Linked DNA regions of Homo sapiens. The protein of the gene in region 1 purifies or fractionates together with the protein of each later gene. This does not show direct contact. Each region holds a gene or a part of one and is shown on either strand. Other genes may lie near its edges.

Region 1 (3,500 bases):
TATTTCTAATTTTCCCTCCTTTTTTCTTCATCCAGGGCTTTTTTCTTACAGTTTCCCCAGAGTCAGTATTAAAGGTGGCTCACCATGCTTCTGAAAACAACAGGATTTTCACTTTGAATCTATCTGCACCGTTTATTAGCCAGTTCTACAAGGAATCATTGATGAAAGTTATGCCTTATGTTGATATACTTTTTGGAAATGAGACAGTGAGTTACCTTTCCTTTTTCAAAAGAACCTGGGGGTTTTTTGTTTGTTTATTTCTGATGTGTGTATATATGTTTAGAAATATATAAATTAAATCCTAAATTTTTGTGTAAATGTCCTTGAGAATTGTGCAACAAAATTGCCTCAATGTCAACTGCTCTCAGTATTTTCAATATTTCCTTCAGTATATACTAACTTCTTTCTTAGTGAAGCATTTATTTATTTATTTTTATATTTTTATTTTTTTGAGGTGGAGTTTCCCTCTTTTCATCCAGGCTGGAGTATAATGGCATGATCTTGGCTCACTACAACCTCTCCTTCCCGGGTTCAAGCAGTTCTCCTGCCTCAGCCTCCTAAGTAGCTGGGGTTATAGGCGCATGCCACCATGCCCAGCTAAATTTTGTGTTTTTAGTAGAGACAGGGTTTCACCATGTTGGCCAGGCTGGTCACGAACTCCTGACCTCAGGTGATCTGATCGCCTCAGCCTCCCAAAGTGCTAGGATTACAGGTATGAGCCACTGTGCCCGGCCCAACATTTATTTTTTTAAGGTGTTTGACGTTTGATTTACTTATAGTAAGAGTCATCCTTTTTACTGTAATTTCTGTGAGTTTTTACAGATGGATACCTGTCCTGTTACTATGACCACAATCAGGATAAAAAAGCACATTCATCACTTTTTTAAGTCTCTTCAGAGTCTAAGTCCATTTGATATTTGTTTAATAAATTATGAGTAAATTTTGATATATTACATTTATATTTCTTTATTAATAATATTTTTAAAATATTGTCTGTTATAGTTGAAGGTGATAAAATGGAATTTCATCTCAACAAGTACAGTTTTTTCTTTCTACCAAGAATGTATTTTCTTCCATTCTAAATTATGGAAATGCTTATTTACTTAAATGCTTATTTACTTTGATTGCTTGTTTACTGTTTATACCTCTTATTTACTGTTTATACCTCTTTAAAAATCCATGAAAGAGGAAAAAATCCTTCAGTGTGTCTTCCTATGACTTGGCCATGTCACTTGATGGTTTAATGTATACAATGAAGGTATTGTATTAATCATCCCAGAAGTTCATTCTGATTCTAATTCCATAGTTCTAACATAGTTTGAATATATTCATCAATTTTATATCTAATAACTGCCATCTGCCTAGAATAACATAAAAATTGACCTGGAAGTTTACGAGATCACCTGGGTAAAGATTAAAGGATGATCCATAGAAATAATATCACAGTGTATCTGCAAAGGTGATGGTTACATTGGTTATAAATGGTGACATTGGAAGGAAATGCTATATTCTTGATAATTCACAAATTGAGATACTGGCAAGAAATAGTGGTAATAGCCAAGTGCCATATAACTGCTAGAAGCCTAATTTGACTAAGATCTACCATTTAGTTTTTCCTTATTAACAGTTTTATTTTGTAAAGGGTAAAAGAAGTAAATGGGAAAAGTGCTATTCAAGCCTTTTGAATAACATTAAAGCATTGGTCTCAGTAGTCTTGAGAATCATTGGGAGAAGTTAACATTTGGTCTCAGAGTTCTAAATAGTCAAGAAAGATCAGACTGGCAGCACTTAAATAAGTTCTCTAGAGTTTAAGAGACAAATCTTAAAACTTTTAAAAAAGATAAATATGATTCCAAAGAGGCCGGGCACGGTGGCTCACGCCTGTGATCCCAGCACTTTGGGAGGCAGAGGCGGGTGGATCACGAGGTCAGGAGATTGAGACCATCCTGGCTAACACGGTGAAAGCCCGTCTCTACTTAAAATACAAAAAATGAGCCAGGCGTGGTGGCGAGTGCCTGTAGTCCCAGCTACTCGGGAGGCTGAGACAGGAGAATGGCGTGAACCCAGGAGGCGGAGCTTGCAGTGAGCCGAGATCGCGCCACTGCACTCCAGCCTGGACAGAGCGAGACTCCGTCTCAAAAAACAAACAAACAAAAAAAAAAAAACATAAATATGATTCCAAAGAATGAAACTTTGGAAGTAAAGAAAGCTTAGGGAGATTGAATGCCATAAAAAATGCTATTTGGACTTTATAGTCACAAATGATCTTAATTAAGGAGAGAATGTGGAGGGACCTTTTGAAAAAATATAGCAGAGCACGCAGAAAACTCTTTAATAAGAGCTCAAATTTGGAGGATAACGAGATAGCTGCCTCTGCCTTTGCCGGTGCAGTGAGAGCAGCTTCAGGAATCTTATGGCCTCTGAATATTTTGGCATCTTCAGCCTACCAAAACTGTGTCAAAAATGCCTCTCTTATTTCTGCATTGTCCACTGGACGTTTTAGTCATATTCAGACACCAGTTGTTTCCTCCACTCCCAGACTTACCACATCTGAGAGAAACCTGACATGTGGGCATACTTCAGCGATCCTTAATAGAGTGGCCCTCTTGCTTCCAAGTGTCTTGAAGCTGCCAGCCAGATCTCTAACATACGTCAGTACAGGAAAAGGCAAGAGAAGGATTGTGAAAGCTGTCATCTATAGGTTTCTTCGACTTCATTGTGGCCTTTGGATGAGAAGGGCTGGTTATAAGAAAAAATTATGGAAAAAGGCACCTGCAAGAAAAAAGCGATTGAGGGAATTTGTATTCGGCAATAAAACCCAGAGTAAACTCTTAAGATAAAATGACGACGTCCTTCTGGAAGAGGTGAAACTGGTATGTCCATGATCCTTATCAGAAGTGTCATGATCGAACAAACCTGAAAGTATAGATCAGAAGTTTCACTTGTTTCTCAGTTATTGAATATGTATCTTTGTGTACATATCTGCAAAAATGGATAAGTAAAAATCTCGATGTAAATTGTATCAATGAATATGTAAACATACAGTGACAACACTGAACTTATAAAAGTTTTAAAACTTAAAAAAAAAGCTCAAATTTGTAAAAGACATGTAAAAAGAAGGTGGAAAATGTATTTAGAATCAGGGAATGATGCTAAAAGTTTGGTAGAGACAAAAGAGAAAAGAAAGTCCCAAAAGTGGTTTAAGTTTGCAGCAGATGCTGATGATATCAAAACAATCTTCACTTAAAAAAAAAAAAAAGACTCCAAAGTACAAGCAACAAATGGAAAAAATAGATAAATTAGACATCATCAAAATTAACAATTTTTGGGCATCGAAGGACACTAACAAGAATGTGAAAAGACAACTAGTGGAATGGGAGTTAATATTTGCAAATCATATATCTGATAAAGGATTCATATTCAGAATATTTAACACAGTAACAACTCAACAATAAGCAAACTAACAACATAATTCAATAATGATCAAAGGAATTTAATAA
Region 2 (4,174 bases), on another chromosome or scaffold:
TGTAGGGACAGGGTCTTCCAACCTTTCCCGAGCTGGTCTCAAGCTCCTGGGCTGAAGTGATCCTCCTGCCTCAGCCTCTCAAAGTGCTGGTATTATAGGCATAAGCCACCACGCCCTGCCCATTTTTCTAAGTTGGATTATTTTACACTCCAGTCTGCTGTGAATGAGAGTTCCAGTTGTTGCGTATCGCAATCAATTTGTGATTGCCTACAAATGATGTGCCGTGATGAAATTGTCCCTGGTGTCCGAGAGGATCGCAAAGAATTTCCCTTCCTTTCTCTCCTTTCTGCTCCCCTTGTACTGTCTACTCCTTAAACTGGTACTTGATCCAGGAACATAATGGGGATGGACAGTGCAGATGGCACACATGGCCTCAGTCTATTGGAGCATCTCAAAGGAATTAGTCTGCAAATTCTAGTGCATCTAGGTGGAGCACAGGAAGGAAGAGAGGTGCAGACTCACGTATGGCCCTGGGGCACCTGCCATCCTCTCGCACCCGTACAGCCCTTACCTGCCAGCACTTACCCTACCCAGCTTGAGTTCTGGGCCTTCTCACCAGCACATCGCTGGGACCTGGTCGACTTCAGGTAAGTTTATTTCATGGCTCCCTCCCCCACGACCTGCACATGCCATATGTTCCTTCCCAGCCCCATGTCACTTGAAATGTTCTATCATGTCCAAGACTTCTCTCCTCATCCTAAAGTGCAGAAAATAAGGATGGAGAAGAGAAGGAGAAGAGAATCAAGAGAGATTCATTGAGAGGGAGGATCAGAAGCTCCTGGGCACCCCATACTGTAGAATAAAAATATTCATTATGGTGTTTTTCTTGCAAAATATTCCCCTCTACATAATTATGTTTTTACATGAATAATATAAATTTAAACAGGAGAAATACTTTTTGAAGAGTCTGAGAATCTTCATAAAGTTCAGGCGGCCACGAATTAGCTGTGTGACCTGGGGCATGCCCCTTAGACTCTGAGCCTCAGCTTCTCTGTATGTAAAATGGGTTGAAGCCGCCCTTCCCCACAAGCACCCTGTGCACAGGCAATGCCCAGCCCCATTATTTTCTGGACTCCGTGGCCAAGCATGCTTAGGACACACAGCCACATACTTCTGGGCAGTGTCATCTGGCAACTTGCTGTCATGTCAGTGTGGTCAAGCATTGTAGACCTCTATGAACCAAATATGCTTCAGGCTTGGGTTGAGCACAGGAGAGGGAGGAGGGAAAGGTCACTGGGGCTGGGAGTGCCTACTTCCCTCTGTGAGTGTCACCCCAGTCCACCCAGTACCATACCTTTCTCTCTCTGGACCCACTTCCTTTTGCTGCCGGCTCCTCCCCATTGAATAACAGCCAAGTTGCTTTGGTTTCTATTTCTTTGTTAAGTCGTTCCCTCTACAAAGGACTTCCTAGTGGGTGTGAAAGGCAGCGGTGGCCACAGAGGCGGCGGAGAGATGGCCTTCAGCGGTTCCCAGGCTCCCTACCTGAGTCCAGTGAGTTCCAGGGCTATGGGCACAGGGCTGCCTCAGCCAGAGGGACACAGCTCTGGGGCTCTGAGGAAGCAACTCCTGGGTGGCAGGGGATGGGGGTGGGGGCATCCCAAAGAGAACACAAGCAGGGCAGAAATATCAGAGGAGGTCATCCTGGCACACCTGTGCCGTGCTGAGCTCACTCATGCCTGGAGGGATGCTCCTTCCCACGAGTCATGGCTTTGACAGTGTTGACTGAGCTGTCCTGTCCTGTCCTGTCCTGTGTGCTCAGGGGAAGACATGTAGAGCGGGGTGGTTCATGTAAAGAGGAAGCAAGCACGCTTCTGGGACAGTAAGGACGCTACCCGGCATGGTAGTTAAGGGTGCTTACTGTGAAGGTGGCCTCCCTGGGTCCAGCTATTTACTGGCTGGTGGTCTCTGGGCCTCAGTTTCCATATCTGTGAAGTGGGAATAATACTTGAGCCCCCCACTCCCAGGGTTGGGATATGGATTAAGGAAGTAGTGTATCTAGTGTGTTTGAACAGTGCCTGACACACTGTAGGTGCTTTGGGAGTGTTTCATGTTATTGGGTGTCTGAGGGCAGCAGGGAAGACCTCCCGAGGAGGTGTCTGTGCTCTGAAGGTTGGGCATGGGCATGTTCAGGGCATCTGTGGAGGGGCAGTCTCAGAGGTGAGAGGGGGGTGAGGACTGTCCCTGCAGCGTGGGGTCAGAGGGCGGCAGGTGCCTTGCTGAAACCCTGTGAGGTTTATGAGTCCCCTTCATACACGGAAAATCTGAGGCTCAGGGAGGCAGAGGCCAGTTGCCAAATGCCTCCAGATGGGAGTGGCAGCCCCAGGAGCCCAGGAGACTTCAGGGGTCACTGTGTCCTGGGCCGGCTCCTGTCATAGGATCTCACCCCGCCTTGGCAAAGAGCTTCCCGAGGGGCTGGAGAGGGTGGGCTGATGGGTCCTTCCTGGGTGGGGAGGCAGGGTGGGGAGGGTGGGCAGAGGCAGGGTACTGAGGGAGGGAAGCTGCCATGGCCCACCTCAGCAGAGGCCAGGGTCGGGCTTGAGTGCCCCCTGGTGACACTGAGTCCAGAATGAGGCTGCCTACGTTCTGGTCTGCAGAGCTCGGCTCTGCTTTCTAAACTCCAGAGAGAAAGAATGGGGAAAGGAGGCCTGTTTCCTCCTGGCTGTCACCAATGACACCTCAGCCACCCTGTGGAGGCCCCTGAGGTAGGACCTGCACAGAGGGGGCTGGGGGAAGCTGGAACAGGCCGCTGGTGGGGGCCTTAGGGTCAGCAGGTGCTGCCTTGGGCATGTCACCCTGTCTCTGGTTTTCTGTCAAAGAGGGGATCCCAGAGCTTCTTCCAGGTTCTGACATATTATTATTCTGGTGACTGGTTTTTACTTTCTAATCCTTGGATTCAGAAGGAAAATTATCCTACGGACATCAGAGAGTTAAAACAGGGCCTTGGAGTCCAGACAAGAAAGATGATCAGTGCAGCCCCTATGGGTGTCCAGAGTACCCCTCTACCCCACGGGGGCTCCCCTGGGTTGGGACAATTAAGCCTCACTTGGTGACCCATCTGGCAGTCGGAGCCACGCTTCCTCCACATGCCGACAGTGGGGGAAGGTCACGCGGTTCGCTGTCCTGCTGAGGAGGGCTGAGTGCCATGAGGGCCTGGCTTGGAAACCTCACTCCCACTTCTTGTCTGGCCTCATCTAGCCCAGCCTCTTTGGAGGGCCTGGGGGAAGCTGGAACCACGTGCTGTGTGGTCCAGGAAGCACTGGGAGAGCCAGGAATAAGGATGTTCTCAGCTTACTCATGAGAGGAAGCCTGTGTGGTGGTTAGAAGCGTGGGTGCTGGGGTTCAAATCCCAGCTCTGTTGCTGACCAGTTGTGTAACTTTGAGCAAGTGACTGAACTTTTCTGTGCCTCAGTTTCCTCATCTGTAAAAGTGGCCGGGGTTGCTGTGAGGATAAATGTTCCTAGTCATGCCCAGAGCCCTCATGGACACACATGGATCCAAATGCCACAGCAGCCTTAGCTGGTCAACCTCAAAACAACACATTTGTTCTTACAGTGTTGGAGGTCAGAAGTCTAAAATCAAAGTGTCATGGAAGGTGGCCAGCAGGACCATGGAGCCTCTGAGGCAGCGGGGCACCTTGGCTAAGAGCCACGTACTGGCCTCCTGCTGGCACGCAGTCTTGGCCAGCCAGGCTGAGCTCCCCACTTCGGGGTCGGGCCTGGGTGTCCTCTGGTGATGCTGAGTCCAAAACAAGGCTGCCCACATTTTGGTTCACAGGGCTCAGCTCTGCTTTCTAGACTTCCAGATAAGAAGAGGAGGAAAAGTCCCCGGTCTCTGGGCACTATCAGGAACAGAGAGCAAGTCATGACTCAGCAGAGGGATCGATTTGTTCAATGCAAAGAGCTGCACTGTCATGTCTGACATGAGCCAGGGGCTCAGCACACGGAATCGCACCCAGTCCTCTCAGAACGCTGCCAGCCAGGGGCTCAGCACACAGCGTTGCACCCAGTCCTCTCCAGAACACTGTCGGGTGGTGTTACTGTCCTGCCATTCAGAGGAGGGAACTGGGGCACAGGCAGGTCAAGTGACTTGGCCAGTGTCAGAATTGCTAGTGTACAGAGCTGGGAGGCAAGCCCAGTCCCGTGGGACCATAAATCCAGTGTGAAAATCCATCCTC
Region 3 (3,238 bases), on another chromosome or scaffold:
TGAAAGCAACAAAAACATACAGACATTTTCCACAGCCAGCGTAGGAACAGCTCCTCCAAATATGGGGGCTTCCTTTGGGAGCCCAACGTTTAGCTCAACTGTTCCAAGCACAGCCTCTCCAATGAACACAGTCCCGCCGCCACCAATTCCTCCAATTCCAGCGATGCCATCTCTGCCACCAATGCCATCCATTCCCCCAATTCCAGTTCCTCCTCCAGTACCTACATTGCCTCCTGTGCCTCCTGTGCCCCCGATTCCCCCAGTTCCTTCTGTGCCACCCATGACCCCACTGCCACCCATGTCGGGCATGCCGCCCTTGAATCCGCCACCTGTGGCACCTCTACCTGCTGGAATGAATGGCTCTGGAGCACCTATGAATTTGAACAATAATCTGAATCCTATGTTTCTTGGTCCGTTGAATCCTGTTAACCCTATCCAGATGAACTCTCAGAGCAGTGTGAAGCCACTCCCCATCAACCCTGATGATCTGTATGTCAGTGTGCATGGAATGCCCTTTTCTGCAATGGAAAATGATGTCAGAGATTTTTTTCATGGGCTCCGTGTTGATGCAGTGCATTTGTTGAAAGATCATGTAGGTCGAAATAATGGGAATGGATTGGTTAAGTTTCTCTCCCCTCAAGATACATTTGAAGCTTTGAAACGAAACAGAATGCTGATGATTCAACGCTATGTGGAAGTTAGCCCTGCCACAGAAAGACAGTGGGTAGCTGCTGGAGGCCATATCACTTTTAAGCAAAATATGGGACCTTCTGGACAAACTCATCCCCCTCCTCAGACACTTCCCAGGTCAAAATCGCCCAGTGGGCAGAAAAGATCAAGGTCAAGATCACCACATGAGGCTGGTTTTTGTGTTTACTTGAAAGGGCTACCATTTGAAGCAGAAAACAAACATGTCATTGATTTTTTTAAAAAGCTGGATATTGTGGAAGATAGTATTTATATAGCTTATGGACCCAATGGGAAAGCAACTGGCGAAGGCTTTGTAGAGTTCAGAAATGAGGCTGACTATAAGGCTGCTCTGTGTCGTCATAAACAGTACATGGGCAATCGCTTTATTCAAGTTCATCCAATTACTAAGAAAGGTATGCTAGAAAAGATAGATATGATTCGAAAAAGACTGCAGAACTTCAGCTATGACCAGAGGGAAATGATACTAAATCCAGAGGGGGATGTCAACTCTGCCAAAGTCTGTGCCCACATAACAAATATTCCATTCAGCATTACAAAGATGGATGTTCTTCAGTTCCTAGAAGGAATCCCAGTGGATGAAAATGCTGTACATGTTCTTGTTGATAACAATGGGCAAGGTCTAGGACAGGCATTGGTTCAGTTTAAAAATGAAGATGATGCACGTAAGTCTGAACGCTTACACCGTAAAAAACTTAATGGGAGAGAAGCTTTTGTTCATGTAGTTACCCTAGAAGATATGAGAGAGATTGAGAAAAATCCCCCTGCCCAAGGAAAAAAGGGATTAAAGATGCCTGTGCCAGGTAATCCTGCAGTTCCAGGAATGCCCAATGCGGGACTGCCCGGTGTGGGACTGCCCAGTGCAGGACTTCCCGGTGCAGGCCTGCCCAGCACAGGACTGCCTGGTTCAGCAATAACCAGTGCAGGACTGCCTGGTGCGGGAATGCCCAGTGCAGGAATACCTAGTGCAGGAGGTGAAGAGCATGCCTTCCTGACTGTAGGATCAAAGGAAGCCAATAATGGGCCTCCATTTAACTTTCCTGGTAATTTTGGTGGATCAAATGCCTTTGGGCCACCAATCCCTCCTCCAGGATTAGGAGGCGGGGCCTTTGGTGATGCTAGGCCTGGTATGCCTTCAGTTGGAAACAGTGGTTTGCCTGGTCTAGGACTGGATGTTCCGGGTTTTGGAGGTGGACCAAACAATTTAAGTGGGCCATCGGGATTTGGAGGGGGCCCTCAGAATTTTGGAAATGGCCCTGGTAGCTTAGGCGGTCCCCCGGGGTTTGGAAGTGGCCCTCCTGGTCTTGGAAGTGCCCCTGGGCATTTGGGTGGGCCACCAGCTTTTGGGCCTGGCCCCGGCCCCGGCCCCGGCCCTGGCCCAATCCATATTGGTGGTCCCCCTGGCTTTGCATCTAGTTCTGGAAAACCAGGACCGACAGTAATTAAAGTGCAAAACATGCCCTTTACTGTGTCTATTGATGAGATTTTAGATTTCTTTTATGGCTATCAAGTAATCCCAGGCTCAGTGTGTTTAAAATACAATGAAAAAGGTATGCCCACAGGTGAAGCCATGGTGGCCTTTGAGTCTCGGGATGAAGCCACAGCTGCTGTCATTGACTTAAATGACAGGCCTATAGGTTCAAGAAAAGTAAAACTTGTATTAGGGTAGCCATTCACATCATTTTTTATAGGGTAGATCTTCATATTGCTGTGATTAATGCATCCAGATTGTTTTCCTAGTATTTCCAGGTTAGAACCTGTGGATTGTTTCAATTGCATATAGCTTGGTTTCCATAACATAGAGCATTGGTTGACTGTTTACAGAAGACTCACTCACCAGGATAAACATTGCTGTATGTTACAGTAAAGCTATCTGGAGAGAACACATAAATGATTTTGGCATACCATTAGAGAAACCATTTGTAAAACTCAAATGACCACATAAAGCTTATCAAGGAGTCTAGATTGGTTTTGTTTTATACCATATGGGATGAAGAAAATAGAAATGTCAGTAGAACTCATTGAGGGTGCTCTTGCCAGCTGCTGAAAATAGAAGTTGGCTACTCTCAGAATTTGGTTTAAAGCTGGACAGATTTGCTTTGTTATAGGGTAAAGCTTTGTCTAAAGTCCTCATTTTCTTTTAAAATTGAATAAAATTTCTGTATACAGATTCATTGTATGTACCTTTATTGCTTCTTAAGGGTCCTTGCTGTATAGACAGTCCTGCTTCAGAAGTTGCTGCTTTGTTTGTCTAATTGACTCATTTGTAAATGAGCAGAACTGTTTTGTTGGTTTTTTTCCCTAAATATAAAAGTCCACACTTCGTTTGTGCTATAACCTCAAACTTTGATTTCTAATGTCACACTTAAAACTGTGTGGAATAAGACTTTTGCCATAAAAATAAACTATGGAGTCCTTTATCTACCAGAGCCTTTTTGGTTTGACCGCCACGATTTAGGTTAGTCAGTTTAAAAATTGTTCATGTTGTTTGGATGGTATCGAAAACCAGAAACCACTTTTAATAATGTGT
Region 4 (3,500 bases), on another chromosome or scaffold:
GGGGCAAACTGCTCTCTTACATCTCTCTTGCTCTTTTTTTTTTTTTTTTTTTTTTTTGAGATGGAGCCTCGCTCTGTCACCCAGGCTGGTAGCGCAGTCTTGGCTCACTGCAACCTCTGCCTCCTGGATTCAAGTGATTCTCCTGCCTCAGCCTCCCGAGTAGCTGGGATCACAGGCGTGGACCACCATGCCTGGCTAATTTTTGTATTTTTAGTAGAGATGGGGTTTCACCATGTTGGACAGGCTGGTCTTGAACCCCTGACCTCAGGTGATCTGCCCACCTTGGCCTCCCAAAGTTCTGGGATTATAGGTGTGAGCCACAGTGCCCAGCTCCATCTCTCTTACAAGGCCACTAATCCTATAAATGAGGGCTTGCCCTCATGACTTAATCACATCCTAAAGGTCCCACCCCTTAATACTATCACATTTGTGTTAAGTTTCAACATTCGTATATTTAAACTTATGACACGTGTCATATAATGTGTCATATTACATATTATGTGTCATAATATGGACACATTCAGACCATAGCAAATAGTACTGTGCATATCATGCAGTGGATAGGCTAAGTTTTAGAGTCAACTTTGTAGAAAATAACGTATTGATGACTAGTACTTTAATATGTTCTGGAGTATCGGGGGAACCCACCCCCAATATTTCAACATAGGTTCCATTTTCCATAAGTGTCGGCCAGCTGAGAAATAAAGAGAGACAGTATAAAGAGAGGAATTTTACAGCTGGGCCGCCAGGGGTGACATCACATATCGGTAGGACCGTGATGCCCGCCTGAGTCTCAGACCAGCAAGTTTTTATTAAGGGTTTCAAAAGGGGAGGGGGTGTAAGAACAGGGAGTAGGTACAAATATCACAGGCTTCAAAGGGCAAAAAGCAGAACTACTAATAAGGGTCTAACAAAGATCACATGCTTCTGAGGGAACAGGACAAAGGGCAAAAGCAGAACCACTGATAAGGGTCCAACAAAGATCACAGGGCAAAGGGCAAAAGCAGAACCACTGATAAAGATCTATGTTCAGTGCTGCACATATTGTCTTGATAAACATCTTAAATAACAGAAAACAGGGTTCGAGAGCAGAGAACTGGTCTGACCACAAATTTACCAGGGTGGAGTTTTTCCCCACCTTAGTAAGCCTGAGGGTACTGCAGAAGACCAGGGCGTATCTCAGTCCTTATCTCAACCGCATAAGACAGACATTCCCAGAGCAGCTGTTTATAGACCTCCCCCCAGAAATGCATTCCTTCCCCAGAGTATTAATATTAATATTCCTTCCTAGGAAAAGAATTTAGTGATACCTTCTCTACTTGCACGCCCATTTATAGGCTCTCTGCAAGAAGAAAAATATGGGTGTTTTTGCCTGACCCTGCAGGCAGTCAAACCTTATGGTTGTCTTCCCTTGTTCCCTAAAAATCGCTGTTATTTTATTTTTTAAGGTGTACTGATTTCATATTGTTCAAACACACATGTTTTACAATCAATTTGTACAGTTAACACAATTATCACAGTGGTCCTGAGGTGACATACATCCTCAGCTTACGAAGATAACAGGATTAAGAGATTAAAGACAGGCATAATAAATTATAAAAGTATTATTTGAGAACTGATAGATGTCCGTGAAATCTTCAAAACTTATGTTCCTCTGCCATGGCTCCAGCCGGTCCCTCCATTCGGGGTCCCTGACTTCCTGCAACACTGGAGTTTGTTGTTCAGTAAGTAGTGATGATATAATGTGCAGTTTATTGCAAAACATAAAGTGTGCTAGATTCACTGCCAGTAGTTTTAAATAAGAGTTCAGATGAATTCTGCCTGGAGCTTCATCAGGGAAGTGCTTCGTCAGGAAGGAACAGTAAAACTGAACCTTAATAGAGATAGGATTGTGATAAATGAAAATGTTGAATGGGAATTTTAGGCATAGAAAGCTGTCATGAGCAAGGTTGTGGGGATGTGAAATATCAAATATTTTTAAGATAGCCGATCATCCTATTTGGTTTAGAATGTAGAGTTCTTTAAAAAGTAGGAGATGGGAACAGATAGAAGTAGAAAAGTCAGCTGGGGCCAGATGATAGAAGGTTTCTCATTCCAGTTTAATTAACTTGAGTTTTATTTGCAAGCTGTGAGAGCATACAATGTTTTGGCTCATGGAAACAAACTGACCAAAGAGATGGCATTGAGGATCAATGAGACTCATGAGTGGGATGGTGGCAGAGAAACAGGGCACAGTGAGGGACCTGTGGAGTGGACAGAAAGGCCTGAGGTGGTGAGACTACCATCTCAAAATGGGAAAAAGAATCCCCTGGGATGGACTGTTGCAGAGAAGGGAGGCAGAAATCAAACAGAACTCCATTGTATGTATAGCTGGTGTTTTGGAGAATGGAAAATCCATTAAATGGCTAGAGGAGATGAAGAGAGTTAGTTGAGGGTTGAAAAAATAACAAATGATAAATTTGGAGTATAAAATCATATTGGAGATCCAGAAAGAGAATGTTTCTACATCTCCTTGTTAATCTGAGCTCTTGTTTTTGGTGGGTTAACTCTTTTAGCTGGATGCTGACAAATATGAGAATGATCCAGAATTAGAAAAGATCCGAAGAGAGAGGAACTACTCCTGGATGGACATCATAACCATATGCAAAGATAAACTACCAAATTATGAAGAAAAGGTAAGGGAGCCCTGGATTACCTGGAAAAGAAGTATCATTATATTCACTACTAATAGACGCAATATTTTCTTTCTTTTTTCTTTTAATGTCTGTATGAGGCCATTCTTGCTTTGCTATAAATAAATACCTGAAACTGTGTAATTTATAAGAAAAGAGATTTAATTGGCCCACAGTTCTGCAGGCTCTACAGGAAGCATGTGCTTCCTGTCACCACCATCTGCTTCTGGGGAGGCCTCAGGAAGCTTACATGGCAGAAGGCAAAGAGGGAGCAGGCTTCTCACATAACAGGAGTGGGAATGAAAGAGAGAGCAAGGTGCCACACTGTTTTAAATGACCAGATCTCACAAGAAGTTACTCACTGTAGTGAGGATAGCACCAAGAAGATAGTGCTAAGCTATTCATGAGAAATCCACCCTCATGATCCAGTCACCTCCCACCAGGTCCCACTTTCAATACTGGGGATTACATTTCAATATGAAATTTGGGTGGAGACACAAATCTAAACTGTATTATTCTGCCCCGGCCCCTCCCAAATCTCATGCCCTTCTTGAATTTCAAAATACAATAATCTCTTCCCAATAGTCCCCCAAAGTCTTAACTTCCTCTAGCATTAACTTAAAAGTCCCAAGTTCAAGTCCAAAGTCTCATCTGATACTCATCTCCTTTTACCTATGAGCCTGCAAAATCAAAACAAGTTAGTTACTCCCAAGATACAAAGCGGGTAAAGGCATTAGGTAAATATTCTCATTCCAAAAGGGGGAAATTGGTCAAAAGAAAGGAGCTACAGGACCCATGAAAGTTCAAAACTCAGCAGGGCAGCCACTA

Evidence for each region.
Region 2: the proteins of ADK (region 1) and LGALS9 purify together in Homo sapiens (co-immunoprecipitation; one large-scale study listed by IntAct). This does not show direct contact.
Region 3: the proteins of ADK (region 1) and RBM12 fractionate together in Homo sapiens (co-fractionation; one large-scale study listed by BioGRID). This does not show direct contact.
Region 4: the proteins of ADK (region 1) and ADI1 fractionate together in Homo sapiens (co-fractionation; one large-scale study listed by BioGRID). This does not show direct contact.

Annotation. Positions count from the first base shown.
Region 1 is NC_000010.11:74,525,221-74,528,720, forward strand, and holds part of ADK (adenosine kinase), read left to right. Parts: intron 1-35; coding exon 36-206; intron 207-2,539; coding exon of another isoform or gene 2,540-2,554; exon of another isoform or gene 2,555-3,500. UniProt on the Homo sapiens protein: Catalyzes the phosphorylation of the purine nucleoside adenosine at the 5' position in an ATP-dependent manner. Serves as a potential regulator of concentrations of extracellular adenosine and intracellular adenine nucleotides.
Region 2 is NC_000017.11:27,629,814-27,633,987, forward strand, and holds the start of LGALS9 (galectin-9), read left to right. Parts: upstream 1-1,374; 5' UTR 1,375-1,452; coding exon 1,453-1,491; intron 1,492-4,174. UniProt on the Homo sapiens protein: Binds galactosides. Has high affinity for the Forssman pentasaccharide. Ligand for HAVCR2/TIM3. Binding to HAVCR2 induces T-helper type 1 lymphocyte (Th1) death.
Region 3 is NC_000020.11:35,651,663-35,654,900, reverse strand, and holds part of RBM12 (RNA-binding protein 12), read left to right. Parts: coding exon 1-2,377; 3' UTR 2,378-3,238. Other genes in the region: CPNE1 (copine-1), read left to right, coding at 1,359-1,373.
Region 4 is NC_000002.12:3,513,032-3,516,531, reverse strand, and holds part of ADI1 (acireductone dioxygenase), read left to right. Parts: exon of another isoform or gene 1-1,622; coding exon of another isoform or gene 1,623-1,724; intron 1,725-2,555; coding exon 2,556-2,675; intron 2,676-3,500. UniProt on the Homo sapiens protein: Catalyzes 2 different reactions between oxygen and the acireductone 1,2-dihydroxy-3-keto-5-methylthiopentene (DHK-MTPene) depending upon the metal bound in the active site.